Linked DNA regions of Homo sapiens: region 2 is reported to be linked to region 1. Evidence: microRNA targets listed by miRTarBase, many of them from high-throughput screens and not tested one by one. Region 1 holds a microRNA gene; the other region holds the end of a gene's coding sequence.
Evidence for each region. Region 1 holds the annotated microRNA hsa-miR-1284 (UCUAUACAGACCCUGGCUUUUC, at 6,820-6,841, opposite strand). A microRNA usually pairs through its seed, bases 2 to 8, with sites in the 3' UTR of a target mRNA and lowers its output. Matches are read on the target gene's strand: a 7mer-m8 pairs with bases 2 to 8, a 7mer-A1 pairs with bases 2 to 7 and ends in A, and an 8mer does both.

Region 2: the mRNA of SCN4A is a reported target of hsa-miR-1284. Seed matches in the 3' UTR shown: 7mer-m8 at 6,044-6,050.

The regions. Positions count from the first base shown.
Region 1 is chr3:71,535,220-71,548,244 of GRCh38, forward strand. MIR1284 (microRNA 1284) reads right to left here and starts at 6,870; the gene lies at 6,751-6,870. The region is part of intron 2 of FOXP1 (forkhead box P1); the gene reads right to left.
Region 2 is chr17:63,933,436-63,941,729 of GRCh38, forward strand. SCN4A (sodium voltage-gated channel alpha subunit 4) reads right to left here. Exons shown (of 24, transcript NM_000334.4): 24 at 5,119-8,294. The coding sequence ends at 7,336. Among named protein-coding and RNA genes, the nearest start is that of CD79B, 5.3 kb to the left of the region's middle. RefSeq lists enhancers at 146-1,750, 146-405, 147-551.

The DNA of each region.
Region 1 (13,025 bases):
AAGGATATTTTAACCATAAGCAATTTTCATCTCATATGCTAACTTCAGAACCTGACCTTCAGGTAAGATGTTATTTCACTGGAGGAGAACTTAATAGGTCCACTCAGAATTCATGGCAAGCAGGTCATGGCCTGAGAAGCAGAGGGGCGAGTCTGCTGAGAGCCAGTGGCAAAGCAGAGATATGCAGCGAGAAACAGGGATGAGGCCAGGCACAGTGGCTCATGCCTGGAATCCTAGCACTTTGGGAGGCCAAGGCAGGTGGATCACTTGAGGCCAGGAGTTCGAGACCAGCCTGAGCAATATGACAAAAACCCATCTCTAACAACAACAACAACAACAACAACAAAAACACAAAATGTTAGCTTGGACGTGGTGGCGTGCACCTGTGGTCCCAGCTACTTGGGAGGCTGAGGTAGGATCTTTGAGCCTGGGAGGTGAAGGCTGCAGTAAGCTGCAGTCGCACCACTACACTCCAGACTGGGTGACAGAGGGAGACTCTGTCTCAAAAGAAGAGAAAGAAACAGGGATGAGAAATTAGAGAACTCTGTTCAGGCTCCTGGTGATTCCCATTCCTGGTTCTGCCCCACTCTGAGATATGGCGGCATCCCAGAGTCCTAAAGATATCCCAAGATCCTTCTAATACACACAACGCCTCCCCGTGCCCTCCACCCTGGCTTGCCTGTTAGCTACCTACAACACCAAGGCTCCTAACAAGAACACTAAGTATTCAGACAGAATAATATGACAGAATTCTGAAAGCCTTAGAGATCAAGGGTGACCCTTGGGGGCAGTCCTGAGAGGCCATTTGCAGACTAACAGTTGCCTTGAGGTAGTCTGCAGGGAGGGAGAGCAAAATAAAGCACAGTCAAAACACAACGAGACACAAGAAGAGTGACACAGAGAGAAGGTGCCTCATGTCCTGAAGGATTCCAGTTTTCAATTTCACCATGGGTTCCATGATCCCACTCTAAATCATCCCTAAAAATTCCCTCTGTTACTTATAACCAAAGACACCCTACAAGGAGTACTTTTTAAATATTTTAGGCCAAAGAAGAAGTTTCTGAACTCTCAATAATTTACTTGTGACCCACGAATTGCAGAACAATGCAATTCGCTTACCCTACGCATCCCCTACCCAAATGCTCAGAGGGTCTATGTCTTCACCTCCACACCCCAGTCACCCTAGTCAGCAACTGGCAGGATCATTTTTGCACAGAATCGGAATTTTAGCACTTCACACAGTCCAAACTACTAGGAATGGAGACTGTACTAAAGTCGAAGGACTCTTAACCACATTATGAGTCATAAATAAAGAGCTTGCATTTATCACTTAAACACTTCTAAACCATGTCTCTTTTTTTTTTTTTTTTTTGGTAGTTGTTGCTCTGTCTTGGAAAAGCAGCACAGATAACACAGCTTTCAGAATAAAATCCTCGCATATAAAGGGCAAAAATGTATGGGTGTTTGAGCAATGAACTGGATCCTAGCAGAGGCATTACAAAGGACTCTGTGGGAAAGGTTCCATAGTATCCACAGTCCCACTGAACACATTCTCAATGTGCCATGATGCAAATCCAACATGATGATCGTTTGGTGTGGGTTCTCCCACCCCCACAGAGTGTGGTGGGAGAAGACACCCTCTATATAGTGTCCCATTTTCCCCAGTGGCAACACATGTGCAGAATAGCAGCGATGACGGCCACGCAGAGATGTAGAAGTGACTTAACACCCCTGCTGACTCTGCCTCCTGCCCACCTGAGCCATGGAGGGAAGGTCTGCCAACTGTCCCAGGATGTCAGGTGGACGTGGGAAAGGCGAGTAGAAGACTGAGGCCAAGCGAGCCAGCGATCCCTAAATAAAAGGTGCCACTGGGGTTTTAACTTCCTTTAAGGTCCTAACCAAGGCCTGGGTACTAAATGAAACAAAGAGGCTCTAAAAAACTTGTCACTGCAGACGGTTGAAATGATGCACAGCCAATCTGCCTCCCGAAAGACAGATGATCAAGGCAGAGCCCAGCAGCCAGCAAGGCGAACTCAGTTCCAGCTGGATTTAGGGTCAAAAGGTGGCCGAGGCATTGCCTTCCCAGAAGGAGTGAGTCACGAGGAAAGACTGAAAGCGAGGCAAGGTGGTGGATTTGTTTTTCCCCCAGCTCAGTGTGGGTATTGGCTCAGCAGTATGGAAAAGTGTACTAGAAGGGAGTGAAGGAAGTGTGCATTCCAGAATGAATGGAAGATGCAGGATAATGAATGGCACCAGGCAGGCGCAGAGGCCAAGTCGGAGAAGCATGCAGTGACCTGCACAGCTAGAAGGGGCTGGGCTGCCTTGACTGACCCAGATGGGTCAGACAGAAAGACGGTGTTTTTTTGGCACAGGTTCTGGAACTCAACAGAGTCAAGGACCAGCCCTGGCAGCCAATATCTGGGTGACTTGCCTCAGCCTCTGGAATTCTCAACTGCTTCATCTTTGAAATAGGGACAAGAATAATACCTCCTCTAATGAAGCTGCTAACATGTATTTAAAGCTTTTTGTAGCAACAGCACAGAGGTTGGCAAACTACTAGCCTGTAGGCCAAATCTTTCTGACCACCTGCTTTTTACAGGCCATGAGCTGAGAGTGATTTTTACATTTTTATATGGTTGAAGAAGACAATGAAAATACTATTTGGTGACACATGAACACGATGTGAAATTGAAATTTCGGTATTCATAAATAAAGTTTTATTGGAACACAACCACACCCAGTCACTTACAGATTGTCTATGGCTGCTTTTGCACTACAATGGCAAAACTAAGAGAGCTGAGAGACTGTATGGCCTGCAAAGCCTAATGGATTTACTATCTGGCCCTTTACAGAAATTTGCTGACCCCTGCATTAGCCAAAAGAGAGCACAATCAGCAGTGCCTCATTCTACAAGTAAAGAAATGCAGACAGATCGTGAAATCTTTTTATTAAGATACAATTCACATGCCATAAAATTCACCCTTTTAAACAATAGAACTGAATGGATTTTAGTATATTCAACGGTTGTGAAACCATCACCACAATATAAGTTAGAAGATCACCACCCCCAAAAGAGATCCTATACCCATTAGCAGTCTCTCCCCATTCCTCTCTCTCCAGCTCCCTGCAACTACAAATCTACTTTGTGTCTTAATGGATTTGCCAGTTCTGGATCTTTCTTATAAATGGAATTGAATATGCGGTCCCTTGGTGTCTGGCTTCTTTTAGTTAGCACAATGTTTGCAAAGTTCATCAATGGTGCAGCAGGAGTACTTCATTCCTTTTTGTGGCTGAAAAACACTGCATTGCAAACATTCATCACATTTTGTTGATCCACCAGTTGATAGACATCTGAGTTGTCTCCACTCTTTGGCTATTATAAATCATTCTCCTATGAACATTTATGTACAAGCTTTTCTGTAGATAGACAATTTCATTCCTCTTGGGTTCATATGCAGGAGTAGAAATGCTAGGTCCCAGTTTATCTATTTGTTCTTTGTTGCGTGTGGTTTGGTTTCACATCTAAGAAACCACTGCCTTATCCATGGTCATGAAGAAGATTTATTCCTATAATTTCTTCTAAGAGTTTTCTATATTTAGGTCTTAATACTTTCGGGTCTTCGATGTGTATGTTGTAAAGTAGAGGTCCAACTACATTCTTTTGCACGTGAATATACTGTTTTTCTCAGCATCATCTGTTAAGAAGACTATTCTTTCTCCACTGAATTGGCTTGGCACCCTTGTTGACAATCAGCTGACCATAAATGTAAGGGTTTATTTCTTGACTCTCAATTCTATTCCATTGATCTGTATCTCCATACTTATTCTCGTACCATACTTTCTTGATTATTGTAGCTTTGTTTTAGGTTTTTTTATTTTTTATTTTTTTGTTTTTATTTTTTTTTTGTTTGAGATGGGGTCTCGCTCTGTCGCCCAGGCTGGGGTGCAGTGGCGCAATCTTGGCTCACTGCAAGCTCCGCCTCCCGGGTTCACGCCATTCTCCTGCCTCAGCCTCCCTAGTAGCTGGGACTACAGGCACCTGCCACCATGCCCAGCTAATTTTTTTTTTTTTTTTTGTATGTTAGTAGAGATGGGGTTTCACCGTGTTAGCCAGGATGGTCTCGATCTCCTGACCTCGTGATCCACCTGCCTCAGCCTTCCAAAGTGCTGGGATTACAGGCGTGAGCCGCCGCGCTCGGTCATCTCTGTTCTTTTTCAAGTGTTTTGGCTATTCTGGCTTCCTGGCATTTCCATATGACTTTTAGCATCAATCTATCGATTTCTGCCAAAAAAAAAAAAATACCTGGGATTTTGGTAGGGACTGCAATTAAATCTGTAGATCAACATGGAGAGTGCCACCTTGATAACAATAAGTCTTCCAGTCTATGAACATATGATATCTTTCCATTTACTTAGGTCTTTAACTTCTTTCAAGAATATTTTGTAGTTTTCAGTGTATGAGTTTTATACTTCTTTTATTATATCTATTCCTAAGTATTTTTGATGCTATTGTAAATACAATAGCTTGAAATCTTTTTTATTAGCATAAATTTTAAGTTGGAATTGTAGAAAGTCAATCAGTAGATGTACAAGAAACAAGGACCAAAGCCTAACAGAAATCGAAGGTAAAACTAAAGCTGGATTTCAGGGAGATACTATATGTCAAGATTCATGTCAGGCTTTTTAAGCTTCATGAGAGCACAAATAGTGTCTGTCTTGCTTATCCTGCACACCTAGCACATAGTAGACATCTAAATAAACACCTGTTGAATGAACAAAGTTTATCAGTAGCAGAAAACACTTAAAATCTGTATTTTCTAATCTAGGCAATAAATATGCCCTTAAATATTCATTTCTTCAAGCCCTAGGTTGGTCTTAATGGTGTGCATTGAAGATATTACTGACGATAATGAGGCAAAATATTCTCAAGCATGACACAAGTTTGGTGAGGGCCCCTGCCAGGTGACAAATCCCCTTTAGTCTTTCCCAGCTAGAAAGTTCAAGACAATGTCACTAGACAAGGAAGAGAATAAGAGTAAGCAGGAGAGGAAGCACCTGAGCTTTTTGCAAACAGCACTGGTCCGCCAGACAATGATGTAAACAACGTCTAATGACACCCAAAGGTAAAACAAGAAATGCTGCAGAAGGTGCTAGAAAAGAAAGAGTGAAGGGGGGACAAGAAGGGTGAGAAACACAAACCAATCTACAGGAGAAAAATGTTGAAACTCAAGGCTAAATATGGCATTTATCACTACTTTCCTTTGTTGTCAAGGGTAACAGATAATCAATTAAAATAATAAACTTTCGTTAAGGACAAGAATACTGTATGTGCTGCAGGGGCACCATGCTAAGTGTCTCATGTACATAATCTCATTAACTTCTTGGGACAACCTTAAGGCAAGTATTATTATCATCACGATTCTAGAGCAGGGACAACAGAGACCTGGAGATGTCAGGGTAATTCACCTAAGGCCTCGCTTCTCCAAACTGCCACCGTTGGCATTTAAACCCAGGTCTCCTGACTCCAAATGTGTGCACTATGCTGAATATGTATGAATACAGACATACACGCATATTGTGTACACTTACAAGTGTAGCAAATATCCAGTGCCCTAATATGGTGGTGAATATGTTTAGTTACTAATGTGAATCCAAACACCAATGAAAGATTAGAAGGAAACAAGGTTTTTAGGACCACAAGTTAAAGAGGTAGGAGAACATTAACAAAAAGGTTACAAATATCTTGCCATTAAAACCCCACAAACCATGAAGCCTGAGATTCCATTGTTTCCTGCAGCCACTGAGGCAATGCTGGCTTTGAGTCCTGAATCTGTCTCAACCGTGGTATGTAACTTTGGACAAGTCCCTTCTTTTAGCAAACTGCACTGCCCTAATTTATAAGGCCATTGCCAAGTCTAGGATTCTACCAATTCATGCTTTTTCCAAGCTTTCAATTATTAGGTAATCAACTTTCATCGCACACCTATTTACACCTTTACCAAACTCACTGGTCAATTATAATTCTCAGTCCCTGTTAAAAGAGAAGAATAATATTTGGGCATATGTAGACATACCCTAGAAGAGAAAAGCATTTTTTAATGAAAATAAAAAAAGAAGGGTATGGGAGTTGGGTGGAGAGATTTACTCTGATAAAGTACATCTTGAGCCCTTTCTTTCCTGGCTGGTCCATATTTCTAAATCATTTCCTTGCTTTCACATAGTAAATTTTCTGCTAGATGTCTAGATATGCTGGAGATCAGGTTACAGTGTGAAGGACAAAAGATAAAAACAATCTGCATACTTCCATCTGGCTCTTCAGAACAAAGTCTAGAGACTTGAAATGTGAGGAGAGAAGCATGCTACTCTAGCTGCACAACAGATACAGCAAAATGTCACAGAAACAAATCTTTCAAGAGAATCCGAGATGCTGGAATGCGTATTTCACCAGAATTTACTCCGAGAGCATTAAAAAAAAAAAGTTAAGGCTCAGATACTGAACACAATGTTGCCTCTGTTACAAGAAGATGAAAAGTTGAAACAGACCAATGCATTAGAAAGTCCATACTGTACTGCAGAGATGCTATTCTTATTGCTGTCAAAAGACTCCTGGTTTTAAAACAAACAAAAAAACACCTTCTAGATTATTTATTCAGACGGTCTTGCCTAGTTTTTAGGACTCAAAAGTCAACACTCGAGGTTTGACTCTGGTCAAACTACTCCTTTGCCACATGGCATCACGCCGCGCGAGACAGATTTTCAGTATGAAAGAAACCAGCAGTTTCCAATACAAACATGGGCTTTCCAATATATAAAATTTAAGAAAAGCCAGGGTCTGTATAGAAAACATTAAACTGGCTTATATATCAAAATCATGAGGTTTAAGCAGAAATGCAGCATTAAAATAATTTACAAAATGGCTCAACAATGAACATTTTCCTCTGTGAAAAAAACAACACCCTTAATGTTTTTCATATGGCACATAAATTTTACAATACCTGCAGGAATATTTTCATTGGTTAAACCAACACCATAGGTCTTTTTAGCTCTTAAGCATATTACGATTCTTGCCTTTTTATGGCATTTTTGTTGTTGTTTGCACCCAATGTAATAAGCTTTTGAGAACAAGAAACAAACCACAATAAAAAGAAAAAAGAACTACCCCTTTGTAACTGCAACTTTCACAAGAGGGGTGGGGGAGCAGAGCGATCGAAATCTCGTTTTTATAGCTGCTATCTTGATGCAATTAGTGTAAAATAATTGTCTGCACAGGCCAAAGTAGAGGCTAAGTTGAGGCACTTGAGTGCATTCCCGAAAATGATTTCCCTGCCTCTTCCTTCAGCCTGCTGCAGCAGATGTTGGCTGTTAAGCCGCACAGACGACACAGTTCATGACTTTTCTAAGACGGCTGTGTGCCACATCTGCAGTTGATGAAATGGAGAGCAGAAGTGTGGCAGACACACAGAGGAGAGTGTGAGCGAGGCAGGCAGGCGCAGGCTGGGCCAAAGGAACTGTCTTGAAGGCTGGCCTAAAAATAGACACATACTCACACTCCTCCCTCCGCAGCCAGCTCATAAAACCCGGCCTGCCTGTCCTATTATGGAGTCAGCCTATGGCAGACACTTCCTGCATCCAGCTTGGGCTGCAGATAACACAAAAGCATGGAGGCAAGAGTGGAGGGGAGCAGGCGGTGTAGCATCCTCAAACTGCAGCTTCGCTCTCCGAGCCTCGGTATAACTGGGCTGTGGTCCAAGTTCAGCTGGGCCCCCAGAGAAAGGCAATGCTTGTGTTTAGCCCGCACAATACTGACATAACATTAACAGATTTACATATGCAAAACTGTGAAGCAACAGGCATTCCCCCTCAATTGACCCACAGCTTGTAGTGTCTGCCGAGTTATTCCCCGCTTCGGCTCTGTAACCAAGTGGGCGGCATGCGAATACCATCTGGGTACCACTTATTGAAAACTGGCAGTCGCTCTGTAATAGGCAAGCTGGCAATAAGAGGGAAGGGAATAAATTGCATCATTTAGTTAACATCCACTTGCTTTGCGGCTGTTAAAAAACCATGACTGAATAATAATTTGGTTATTTCTTTTGCCAGAAACTGCTGTCAGCCAAATTGTACTACGCACGCTGCAGAAGTCGACTTGCAAAATTTCCACTTGAGAAGGGACTGAGGAGGATTGGGGCAAAATGGGCACCAACCTCTGGCTGTTAGCAGTGGCGACTCCTGCTGCACAGTGGCTCTGTGTCCTCCAAGTGTCATCATCCCAAATGTAGTTGACACCAAGCCCTGGTTAGCCACCTGGCCATGCTGAGCCCCAGCACCAAGCTGTGATGTGTGGTAACACCCTCAAGCAGCTCAGATCCAAGGGTGTATGTGACAAGTGGCATCTACGTGACTCTCAGCTAGCCGTGGAGGCACATGTGGCCAAGCAAAGCTTGAGCTGACATCCCCCAGTTTCTGCCTCAAAACAGAGTGGGGAAGCAGGTCCACAGAAAGCCTGAGAGCTGCAGGCCTATATCCCTCTACTTCTGTGCCTGGAGCAGGCAGACTGAATCATTTCTTTCTGGTTTACTCACCTGCTTTCAAATACAACTAACAAAGAAAGTGACAGAAACCTTAGACCACCACATAAAGGTAGAAGTGATCTTCATTCAGTAAAACCCATGTGTTTGAAGTGGTTCTCTTTTGAATATATTTGTAAAGATATGAAATTCTCTTATTTACTATATGCTGTGCCTGTGTGTGTTTACACACTATATATACACATATACACACATGTATGTGTGTATACACACATATACACACATATACACACATATATGTGTGTATACACATACATATACACACATATATGTGTGTATTTCTATTACTTTCCTTTACTATGTCTTTTAGGAAAATCAGAGCCGAATACATACAAGTGACCAATGCCGTAGCAGTATTAAAAAGATATAAGTACTTAAAAGATATAAATAAAAATATATAAATCCTTCTATAAAGGTTAGAAATATTTTATGATATAAATCCAGTTATAAAATATGTATTTATTTCTTTTAATAATTTATATCATCTATAAACTGCTATAGCATTGGTCAATTACATATATTTCCACTTTGACTTTTTAAAAAGATGTATCAAAGGAAAGTAAAGAAATGGAAAAAAAAAAAAAGGAAAATTTGGAACAAAAAAAAGGAAAAAGCAGGAAAGACTAGACAGACTCTGCTGATCGTGGAAGTACTACAAGTGAACAAAGTTTGATCAAATTCAAAGAAAAAAGGAAGATGAGAACATTTGCAGTGACACCAATGGCAAAAACATACGTTTCCAAAATCCAAACCTGAAGCACTTGGGAAGGAATGGCTAAACAATCTTTCAAAGCCCAAGACATTTAAAGACCACTCCATTTTATATGTGGGGTGGTCTTTCTGAAAAATAACACAGTTGGCTGGTCATGCATTAAAATAAGCAGAATATGATCACAAAGAGGTAAGAGAGACAAAGGAGACAAGACCAAATCGTCATGTATTTTACAAATCACAACTGTTGTAAGTTACCATATGATTAAGTGAAACTTGGATAATAGTTCTTTTCCAGGCAATGAGGGTAGTCAAGAAAGATAATAGGGCTTTTTTTTTCCAGATTCAGCTTATGATTGTAATCTCACCTTGCTCTAAACAGCTTAGAAGGCAAAGAAAAGACAAAGTCAATTCTGTATCTAGAGACATAAAAAAATGTTAAGACTGTAAAGCAATACGCTGAATTTGCTTCTTGAAAGGATGAGAAAGAAAATGATATTTCCAAGTCACCACGCTTGCAGTCTGTTAAAAGGAAGCAAAATAGCGATTTTAACCAGGACCATGGGTGGTAAAACAATTTTTTTTTTATTAAAAATAACCATTTTATTTACACATGTACATGCGCGCATATGCTCCCTGAAAAAAATCAGCATGCTGTCATGGAAATACCACTGGTCTGAGGGAGAGAAGGACTGGTTTTCACCAAAGCTCAGCCACTTTCTAGTTGAGTAAGTGACCTTGGGTAAGTCACAGTTTGTCTGGGCCTAATTTTCTTTTCTTTGGGAAATAGTGATATGTAACAAAGCAGTGTTAGAATTTCCCAAATCTGAGAGAAATAATGGTTTTCCTAATAGCTCTTTATTGCACATTTATCATTCCAAAATGTAAATCCATCCTATGAAAATAAATGAATCAGAGTTACACAAGATTTCAAAATTACTCTCATTTTACTTTGCAAATTACACTTAGGGTAAATATTGATGGGGTTTTGTTTGTTTTTAAAAATACACATGCTGAAGGACTGAACTGCCTTATGCAAATATTTATCTTCTAGAACATTATATGCTCCTTAATGTTTGTTTAAAATCCTAAAAGTTTTCAGTAACTGCAAGATTTCTATTTAATATGCAATTCCATAATAAATAGCTATAATATAAATTTAACCTATATATATCGTTTTCGCAATAGGTAGGAACCAAAAGTAAAAGTCTGAAGAACCTACAACCCAAATATGATGTAAGCCAGCTTAAGATTTTGGAAAATATTACATTCCTAGAAAACAGATTTTTAAGCTATTGCCATGTCCCTTTTGTTGCTGCATATTTAAAAGTAATCACACTCTCCCTGGTTTTCACTGTTTTATTCATCTTAAGCTCCTCTACCAGTGAACCATGGGCACAGGTTTCCAGAAATCACTTTAAATGTTGCATATATCCTGGCAAAAGTCCAAAATTCTAGCCAACATCAGTATTTTCGAGTTAACCTTAATCAACTCTATTGCCTTTCAAAAGTGGAGACAATGCACTTGACCCTTGTTCCATGGAGTATGTGTGTGTGGCTTTTCCCCAGGAGGGGTCATGGATTTGCATTAATCCATACAACACCTTCCCCCACCCACCTCCCCACACTCCAACATCCAACTGCAGACATTCACAAGCCAGCTGGCGAGGGTTAGTGGTCGGTGGCCAGGTAAGAGAGTGAAGGTAACTGGTCCACAAGAGGCAGGAATTCCCACTTTGGCCTCATTAGCAGCAGGGCCAAGCAGCCAAGGCTAAAGTTAACATTCACGAAATACACCTGGCTAATCTTGTAAAGAATAAAGATTTGCTCATTAACTGAGCTTAGAGAAAGGTGTGACCCACAAAACCGAAGAGCTATTTTCAGGTCCTTAATGGTCCAAATTTCGTGATCAAGTTACAAATTCCATGTGGTTCTTCATAAGGTCCCTTTAAGAAACTTTTCGATGATGGAACAGTGGAGCCTCTGGCCATGTCATTCATATACACACAGAGATGCACAAACACCTACCCACCACTTCTATGATGCAGGGTTGAATAAAGCTTAATGGAAGTTAACCTTCTAGCCTGGGTGCAAGATACCCAACCACCGAGATGCTGTTCATCAGGTACCCCAATGCAGCGAAGCACACCTCCAAAGCCTTGCTGAATGGCACTAGCACCAGTGCCACTCCTTGCTCATTTCTAAGAGGCTCCTGGACAGTGAAGTCAGGGAGCTGCCTAGCCTCTGCAGCCCACTCTAAACGGACGATGATTTGCTGATGGTGATTTCTCCTGCAAGGACTACCCAGAGCCACTAATGGAGGCAAGCGCTGGCTTGTTGCTTGAGCTTTCATCTGAAAATAAAACTGAAGGGTCAATTTTCATCATGAGCTTGAGAAAAGAAGGAAATTGCAAAGAAAGGAAGGGGAGAGAGACAGAGACACAGAGAGGAAGAGAGAAAGGAAGGAAGGCAATTGCTTGCTACGAAGACAAAACAAATTGTGAAATCTAGAAATAAATACTCAGGGCTGAATTCTAACACAACTGTCACTGCTGTCAGTTTTAGGAAATAAAACTCTTATGAAATACAAAAAGGTTCAAGGGGGAATTCAATCTATCTGAGTTTTACATAAACTAAAAATTACAGGTTTCTGAAACAGTTGGGATTAGCATTCTTCTTAGGTAGTTTAGGAAAGGTTACCCTTTCCTCCCCTTCATTTTAACACTGTGAGGGGTCTGCCTGCCTACCAAAATGCAACCAGTGCAGCCCCAACCACCAGATCAAGGAACAAACAGTGCAGGACTAGACAGCAGGTTTGTGGAAACCCAGCAAGAACGCTCTTCTTTGAGGAAAGGAGGGCTTGGCAGGTAAACAACCATATCAGGCCTTATCCAAAAAGAAGGTAGAGGTGGGGCCTCTAGGGCGAGGCCCAGATGGTCTCCACGGATTGCTGTGCTCCTTTGGGCCCCGTTTGACCTCTTTTTAAAGGGCTCTGAATACCACTAGGGAACCAATGTCACCCAGCAAGGGCCACTCAGAGCCACACTTAAGGGGCAATGCATGTATTTTCTTCCTTCTATGACATTAGAAGGCAACTTGCTGTTCTTGGGGCCCAAGGCAGAGAAGAATGTGAACACACAAAGTTCTTGTAGAGAATTAGTCCTGGCACAATTACCTAATGGCCTCTTCAACCAAACACCTGGTTGGCTACTTATCAGTAGCAACCCTATAAGCAACCCATTCCAGCAAGGTCCAGAGAGAAGAGAGGACAGCTGTGACTATTCAATCCTTTGGTGGTCATCATCACCTCCCATATTTATGAGGCCTTTTGGCCACAATGGTCTGAGCTCTTGTTGTGTACATCTTTATTAGTTGGAAGAAAAGGTCTAAGGTTTCTTTCCCAACTCAGAGAAGTCCTCTTAAACCAAACTGACTTAGCCAGCCCCAGGTCAGTACAAACAGTCAATTTCATAAGAGGACAAAGGGCTTTGGAAAAGAAGTGAACAGAGAGAGAGGATGAGGCAATCTGCAGTTCCTCTTTGGCTGGGGCCTCTCAATGGGGCCTCATTCTTTGTCTCAAAGATAGACAGGAATTCCAGCATGGACAACACCCCCAAGTTTAAATATACCTTTGAAAATGTGGGTGACTGGCAGATTATTGTAAACCACTGATCATCACCATTAATGTGGGTGTTTTAAAAAGTTGGCCCTATGAATGGAGGTTGA
Region 2 (8,294 bases), not on the chromosome of region 1:
TCGGTGCCCTCTGTCCACCTCTCACTCTCCTCACAACCCTCCGTTTTCCAGTCTGTGCTGGGGCAGGTCTGTCTGGATTTAGGGAGAAGCAGAACCACCTCCCATGCCATGGTTGGAAGGCAGAGGGTCTGGGTGGTCCCTCTTTAGATCTTGGCCTAGGCCTCGGACCTGATAAGGTGGGGGCCACTCTCAAGGGGTGCAGGCCAGGACCTGAGCCACGGAAGTCAGGGGCAGGAGGGTTAAGGTTTCATCCGAGGAACAGCCCGTTCCGGGCAGCCCCAGATGTTCTTTCTTGTTTCCAGATGTTCCAAATGAAAAAACATTTCTCTGAAAAGCTGTCAGATGTTCAGTTCATGGAATAAACAGCTCAGAAATATAAACATCACCTGAGGTCAGCTTGAGGCCCATGGGCCCGCATGCTGGTGAGGGTGGCTGGAGAGAGACTGACCCGGGGGGAGTGGGGCAAAATCTGGGAGTCTCATGGTTTAGGAAATACTCTTCCTGAGCCCCTAACGACAGAGTCCTTCATTAACTTTGGGGCTAGTGTCTCCCCAAAGTTGGGGGGTATAACTGGGAAAGGCTTGGGGCACACGTGTTTGTGGGGGGTGTGTGTGTGTGTGTATGTGCATGCTCACACAGGTGTGTTGCCTGGACCCTGTGGTGTGGGGCCTACTCTGGAGCTGGTCCTAGGGCTCAGCGGACTGTAGGGGGCACGGAGGTTGGTGGGGGGCAGTTGGCACCCATCCTCAGGTGACAGGTGCGCTAAAATCTCAGAAATCACCACTAAAGAACTTATCCAGGTAACCAAAAAAACTACCTGTACCCCAGAAAATATTGAAATAAAAAATTTAAAAAAACAAGTGAGAAGCAGCTCCCACTCCAGGGAGGGAAGACACACACATCCCGTGGACAAGGATGCAGATGTGGCCTTTGGGCTTCATTCCCATTCATGCCGGGCAGGGATCTGTTTTCAGGAGGGGCGGAGGCAGCGGGGGCCCCACCGCCTGCAGGGTTATTTGTCACATTTTGAGCCGTGCTGTTCCCTCACTGGTGACAACAGCCCTGAGCCCCATTTTGGGCTCATGATGCCCTTTTCTTCCCAGAACAGGAGGCCTCACAAGCCTACCCCTGCCTCTGCCCTCGGCTGCCCGGGGCTTCACATTCTGACTTCTGACGACACCTCCCTTTCCAGGAAGGCAACATCAAAATAAGGAATGGGGGCCAGGGTCGGGCGAAGGGACAAGGGGCTCAGGGGGTGGGGAAGCAAGAAGGCAGCGACCCCCAGCCACCCTAGGATGCCGGGAGGGGGAAGAACCTCAGGGAAAGAAGAGCTCAGACCCCTGCCTCCTTCTCCAGCCCAGGTGTCCTGGATCTGCTGGGCTGCTGTGACTGGGAAAAGACCTGCTAAGAAGGACGTGGGTTTGAGTCCTGACCCAGCAGTGTAGCAGCCAGGAAACCTCCCCAGGTTACCAGTGGTTCTCTACTAAGGGTGGCTCTGCCCCAACGGAGGGAGCGTCTGCACATGCATCAGGGCAATCGCGCTGGTCTCAATGACCGGTGGGTGCCTGGGGCGGGAGGGGCATTGGCTGGCAAAGCAGAGTTCCCTGCCCCACATGCCAACAGCACCCATGAGGCAACACCCATTCTTAACCTCTCAGTGACCAAGGTTCCTCATTTTCGTAAAATAGAAATAAGCCCAATAGCGCGTTTTTTTGTTGTTGTTTTCTGGGGTTTTTCTGAGACAAGATCTTGCTCTGTTGTCCAGGCTGGAGTGCAGTGGTGCAATCTCCATTCACGGCAACCTCTGCCACCTGGACTCAAGTGATTCACCCACCTCAGCCTCCCGAGTAGCTGGGACTACAGGTCATGCTACTACACCTGGCTAATCTGTGTATTTCTTGTAGAGACAGGTTTTACTATGTTGCCCAGGCTGGTCTCAAACTCCTGAGCTCAAGCGATCCACCCGCCTCAGCCTCCCAAAGTGCTGGGATTACAGGCGTGAGCCACTGCGCCCGGCCCCAACAGTGCGTTGGTCGAAGGGCAGCTGTGCACATTGAAGGCCATCCTGCATCTGAGGTACTTGGTGAATGTGGTGGACGGCACGCCCTGAGGAGGGCGAGGAGTGCGAGGAGTGGCACGGATGCCTGGGGAGGTGGGTAGCTGTGACTGTTGTCCCAAGTTGTCTCTGTTTCTCACCCAATATGAGGCCTTTTTTCTTCCACCATTCAAGGCTCAAAGGATGTGTGGGCTTGAGCACCCTGCGCTCTGCAAATCTTCCTGTCCCTGATGCCAGAGAGGGCTCCAGGCGAGGTCTGGAGGAACTTAAAGTGAAAAGAATGTCTCCAGTGTCATTTCTAATAGAGCTTATTTGGATCTTCTCTCTTTTCTTGGTTAATCTTGCTAATGGTCTATCAATTTTATCTTTTCAAAGAACCAGCTTTTTTTTTTTTTTGAGATGGAGTCTTGCTCTGTTGCCCAGGCTGGAGTGCAGTGGCATGATCTCAGCTCACTGCAACCTCCGCCTCCTGGGTTCAAGTGATTCTCCTGCCTCAGCCTCCCAAGTAGCTGGGACTATAGGCGTGCAACACTGCACCCAGCTAATTTTTGTATTTTTAGTAGAGATGAGGTTTCACCATTTTGGCCAGGCTGGTCTCAAACTCCTGTCCTCGTGATCTGCCCGCCTCGGCTTCTCAAAGTGCTGGGATTACAGGCATGAGCCACTGTGCCCGGCCCAACTTTTTGTTTTAATTGATCTTTTGTGTTGTTTGTTTCAATTTCATTTGGTTCTGCTCTGATTTTTCTCATTTCTTCTCTTCTGCTGGGTTTGAGTTTAATTTGTTTTTGTTTCTCTGGTACCTTGAGGCATTTGTGGTCTTCCAGAGTTTTTGATGTAGGCATTTAATGCTATGAACTTTCCTCTTACTACCACTTTTGCTGTATCACAGAGGTTTTGAGAAGTTGTGTCATTATCATTCATTTCAAAGAATTTTTAAATTTCCATCTTGATTTTATTGTTAACCCCCAAATCACTCAAGAACAGATTAATTTCCATATATTTGTATAATTTTGAGGGTTCCTTTTGGAGTGGATTTCTAGTTTTATTCCACTGTGGTTGGAGAAGATACTTGATATAATTTTGATTTTCTAAAAGACACATGCACACGCATGCTTATAGCAGCACAATTCACAATTGCAAAGATATGGAACCAACCTGAGTGCCTACTAACCTATGAGTGGATAAAGAAAATGTGGTATATATACACCTCTTTATGGAATACTACTTAGCCATAAAAAGGAGTGAAATAGGCTGGGCATTGTGGCTCACACCTGTAATCCCAGTACTTTGGGAAGCTGAGGTGGGCGGATCACGAGGTCAGGAGATTGAGACCATCCTGGCTAACCAGGTGAAACCCTGTCTCTACTAAAAATACAAAAAATTAGCCGAGCGTGGTGGCAGGCGCCTGTAGTCCCAGCTACTTGGGAGGCTGAGGCAGGAGAATGGTGTGAACCCGAGAGACGGAGCTTGCAGTGAGCCGAGATCGCGCCACTGTACTCCAGCCTGGGCGACAGAGTGCGACTCCGTCTCAAAAAAAAAAAAAAAAAAAAGGAAGCGAAATAGCATCTTTTTGCAGCAACCTGGTTGGAGCTGTAGGCCATTATTCTAAGTAAAGTAACTCAGGAATGGAAAACCAGATAGCATATGTTCTCACTTGTAAGTGGGAGCTAAGCTATGAGGATGCAAAGGCACAAGAATGATATAATGGACTTTGGGAACTCAGTGGGGGAACGTTGAGGGAGGGGTGAGGGACAAAAGACTACATATTGGGTATAGTGTACACTGCTCAGGTGTCAGGTGCACTAAAATCTCAGAAATCACCACTAAAGAAATTATCCAGGTAACCAAAAAAAAAACTACCTGTACCCCCAAAACTATTGACATAAAAATTTTGAAAAAAAAAGTAAGAAGAAGCTCCCACTCCAGGGAGGGAAGACAGCACCCTGGGACCACTCAGACAACCCTGTAGAGATTCTCCACACCTCCCCTCGCACTCACGCACAGAGAGCTGCAAGGTGGAAGGTGCCGCAGAGACAATGGAACGACACTGGGGGGCAGCCTGAGGGCCACTCCCCATCCCCCACGCCAGTGCTACATCACCTCAGGACCCAGGAAGAGAGGGTGCAGAAATCCTGAAAAGAATTAAGTGCTTACTTGTCTGGAAGAATACAGCCCTGGGAGTCAGAAGTTGTTACAGAAAATAAAATTACAGGCTGGGCGCAGTGGCTCATGCCTGTAATCCCAGCAACTTGGAAGACCGAGGCAGGAGGATCACTTGAGGCCAGGAGGTTGAGACAAGCCTGGGCAACAGAGCAAGACCCCATCTCTATAAAAAACCATCCAGGTGTGGTGGCGTGTGCCTGTAGTCCCAGGCTCAGGTGGGAGGCTCAGGTGGGAGGATTGTTTGAGCCCTGGAGTTCGAAGCTGCAGTGAGCCATGATTGCACCATTGCACTCCAGTTTGGGTGACAGAGTGAGACCCTATCTCAAAAAAAAAAAAAAAAAAGAAAGAAAGAAAAAGAAAATTACATACAAGATTATATTTCACTCTCTGGGGGCTGTGGGCTAAACTTGCCGCATAAGAATATTCTTAGTCACGGGTCCACGTGACCCTGGGCTATCTGGGGTCAGAAGTCAGTCCTGGGGTCAGCGCCTCTGAGGAGAGGGAGAGGCTGTGCTGTGTACCCCACAGGCACCTTGAGGCCTCTGAGATGGGCAGAGAAGTGAAGGGGCCTCTGGGGAGGAGGAGCTGGGGACACAGAGTCCCAACAGGGATCACCTGGAAGAGAGGGAGTGTGGTGCTGCCTGTTGTGGGAGCCAGGTCTTGACCCCTGATCCTATCTGGTCTCTTGGATTCCAGCTAAGGGGCTTTTGTAAGGAGGCTGGAGAGAGCTGGACTGGGCCAGAGCGGGGAGCTGGGGCCTCCTTATCCTGCCTGGCCCCCTGAGAGGCTCCCGTGTCTTCCACGTTTGGCTCCAATCCCCACCGACCCTTTCTGCTTCTCACTGCCCTCAGCCCCCATCCGCATCCACATGCTGACATGCAGAAGGGAGAAGCCACATACCAGAGGCACCAAGGAGGGTTTATTGTAAGAACTGTACAAAGGAGCCCGCCTGCTGGCCTGGCGTGGGACCTGTTCCCCACTGGACCAGGCAGGAATGGGCATCCGTCTGCAGGGGAGGGGCCACAGGCAGGGAGAGGCCGGACCCGGCTCATCTACTCTTCCTCTGCAACCTGCACACAGTCCGAGGAGAATATCCAATCAAACAGATTTCTGAGGCTCCAGGGGCTGTGCCAGCCCAGGGCCCAGGAGGGCAAGGCAGAGGGGCAATGTGCCAGGAAGGGGAGACTGCCCCCATTAGACGAAACTTCTGAAGGAAGAGATGGAAGGAGTGGAGGCCTCCTTCCATAGAGGAGACATAGGCAGGAGGCAGGGAGCAGGGCTGAGGCCATGGGTGTGACAACGAGAAACAGGAAGGGGAGGAGAGGGGAGTGAGAGAGAGGGCTGTTCAGGCAGGACTGGGAGCAGGTGAGAGAGCATGGTGGACAATAAAGACAACTCTGGCCCATAGGCATGGCATGTAGATGTGCACACACACACACGTGTTCACACACTCAAGCACACATACATGTCTTGTTTTGAAGGTTTTGCTGCTTCCTGAATTTTAATCAAACTTTTCATGAGAAACAAGAAGAAAAAGAAGAGGCACTTAGGCCAACAGAATGCCCTGAGTACACACCTTACCACATGCGTTCACACGCATCCACACACTCACAGCACAGGTCCACTCTCCCAGGCACGGGAACACTCCCAGGGACAGGCCTGCACAGTATGACACACCAGCCGTACTCCATGGACCTTGAAACAGTCCAGGGCACACATATATACACATATATACAAAGATACCCAGACACGTGCATAATGCAGGCTCCAGTACACAGTGGTTCACACACACACATACAGTCACGCACTTGAACACACACACAGCTATACACACAGGCCTATAAAAGCATACAAGCAGACACACAGCCACAGGTACACACACAAGTGAATAAATCCAGCGACGCCTGAGCAGGTCTCTCACCCCTCCTCCTGAGCCAGCAGAGGCCTGGCCCTGCCATGCCCAGAACAGCGATGCAGCAGAAGTGCTTCTTCAGGCCACAGGAAGTTGGAAGGTTGAGCCTGAACCAGTTGGGCCTTCCCTGCTGCACGCCCCAGGGTCGAAATATCTAACCTGAGCTCAACTGTACATTCTTAGGATCACTTTGGGGAGAGAGGTGGGAAAGGTGAGAAAGAGACGGGCGTGGGGAGATGAGAAGGGAGATCTCTGAGGCTGGATGAGGCTCCTGGAGCCCTGGTGGTGCTCACGGAGGAGTGAGGCAGGGAGAGAGGGAAGGGGCGAGAATCTTCTTACTGAGCAGCAGGTCCCTGACTCCCGCTCAGGTCTGGATGCTCAGGCCATGTGCAGCGATCCAGCTGGCAGGACCCAGCCTGTCTCACTCCCCCGTGCTTCCTAGAAAAGGACAATTCATTCCCAAGTGGCATCCTTCCTTCTGCTCTTCCCCTAGGAGCCAGCCAGGGGAGCTACGGACCTGGACGTGGCCTAGGAAGAGGTTTCAGGAGTCACCATCCCAGCCCAAAGCAGCAGGATCCAGTGGCCAATCAGGTTTTGAGGCTTTGAGGAGCTATTTCTGAACCAGTCACATTTCCCTTTTCCAGGGAATTCCTGAGCTGGCCTGGTGGGTGAAGCTGCACCCCAGAGTCAAAGGGGGTGGGCTGGCAGTGCCCTGGGGTTAGGTGTCTGCACTCCCTGAGGTTAAGACATCTTTGTCTGGGCTGGGGCTGAGGGGTCTGAGCCACTTCCTGGGGAGAGGCCAGTGACCCTTAAGACTCTGGTGATGGGGGGCAACTGATCCCTCCACCGCAGGCCAGCTCCTCCTCAAGTGAGGGGCAGAGATTCGAATGTTCTGACCTCCCCCAGGCCAAAAGGAGGGGCGACAGGGCCCAGAGGAGGTCAGAGCAACTTGCAGGTTAAATCTTGGAGGCAGGGGCCTCAGACCCAGCATGGAGCCCCTGAGCGCAATTCCCATTTCCCATGGTCTGGGAACGCAGGCGCTCGGGCCTGGGTGTCAGCCCCAGTGTGGCCAAATCCTGTCCCCCATCAGGGAGCCAGGCACAGTCCCAGATTCAAAGCCCTCCTCCCTCACTCTGTGTGCAGGCACCACGGGGGAGCTCTGGGGACTATGCCGAGACTCAGTGGGCCACCCCGATGCTGCCTGCTAGACAAGAGACTCCTTGACACCTGGGCGCACAGTCTGCCCTGGGGGAGGGGCGGGAGGCCAGGCAGTGTCTGAGGGGCTGATGGGCATCAGCCCCATAGTGGGTCCGGCGTCCCCTGCCTCGCCCTTCTCCTCCGGGCTTGGCGAGCTGCTGTTCCCATTCTCGTGGCCATACATCTTGCTCATGGTGTTGGCAAGCAGCCCCTCCTTCTCAGGGGCGTCATCCCCGCTGCCGTCGTGGCTGTGGCGGTACATGTAGGATGCCTGCTTCATGGAGCGCTGTAGCAGGTGCCGGCGGTAGGCCCTCTGGATCTTGATGGCGCACACCTCCTCGTGCTTCCTCTTGAGGGTGGTGGTGATGGGCTCGTAGGACACCTTGGAGGGGTTGGCTGCCATGAACTTCTCCTCCATGGTCTGCTTGAGGGCGTCCATTTCCCCAGAGTCACCCAGGACCTCTTTGGTCAGGGCAAAGAGGATGTCCAGGCAGTGGATCTTGTCCCCTGGCACCATGGGCAAGTCCAGTGTGATGAGCTTGATCTTGTTGGGCTTGGCAATCCTCAGCGGTTCCTGCAGGGTGTCCACGAAGTCTGAGAGGCGGCTGTAGGCGATGAACTGGGTGGCGTCGGGGTCGAACTTCTCCCATGTCTCGTAGAACATCTCAAAGTCATCTTCACCAAGGGGCTCGCTGCTCTCCTCTGTGGCCACATTGAAGTTCTCCAGGATGATGGCGATGTACATGTTGACCACGATGAGGAAGGAGATGATGATATAGCTGCAGAAGAAGCAGATGCCGATGGAGGGGTTGCCGCAGTCACCCTTGACACTGGTGCCCGGGTTCTCCAGGTTGGGGTCACAGTCTGGGGGCCCGCTGTTGAGGATGGGGTTGAGGAGCCCGTCCCAGCCGGCCGACGTGGTGATCTCGAACAGGCAGATGATGCTGTTGCCGAAGGTCTCGAAGT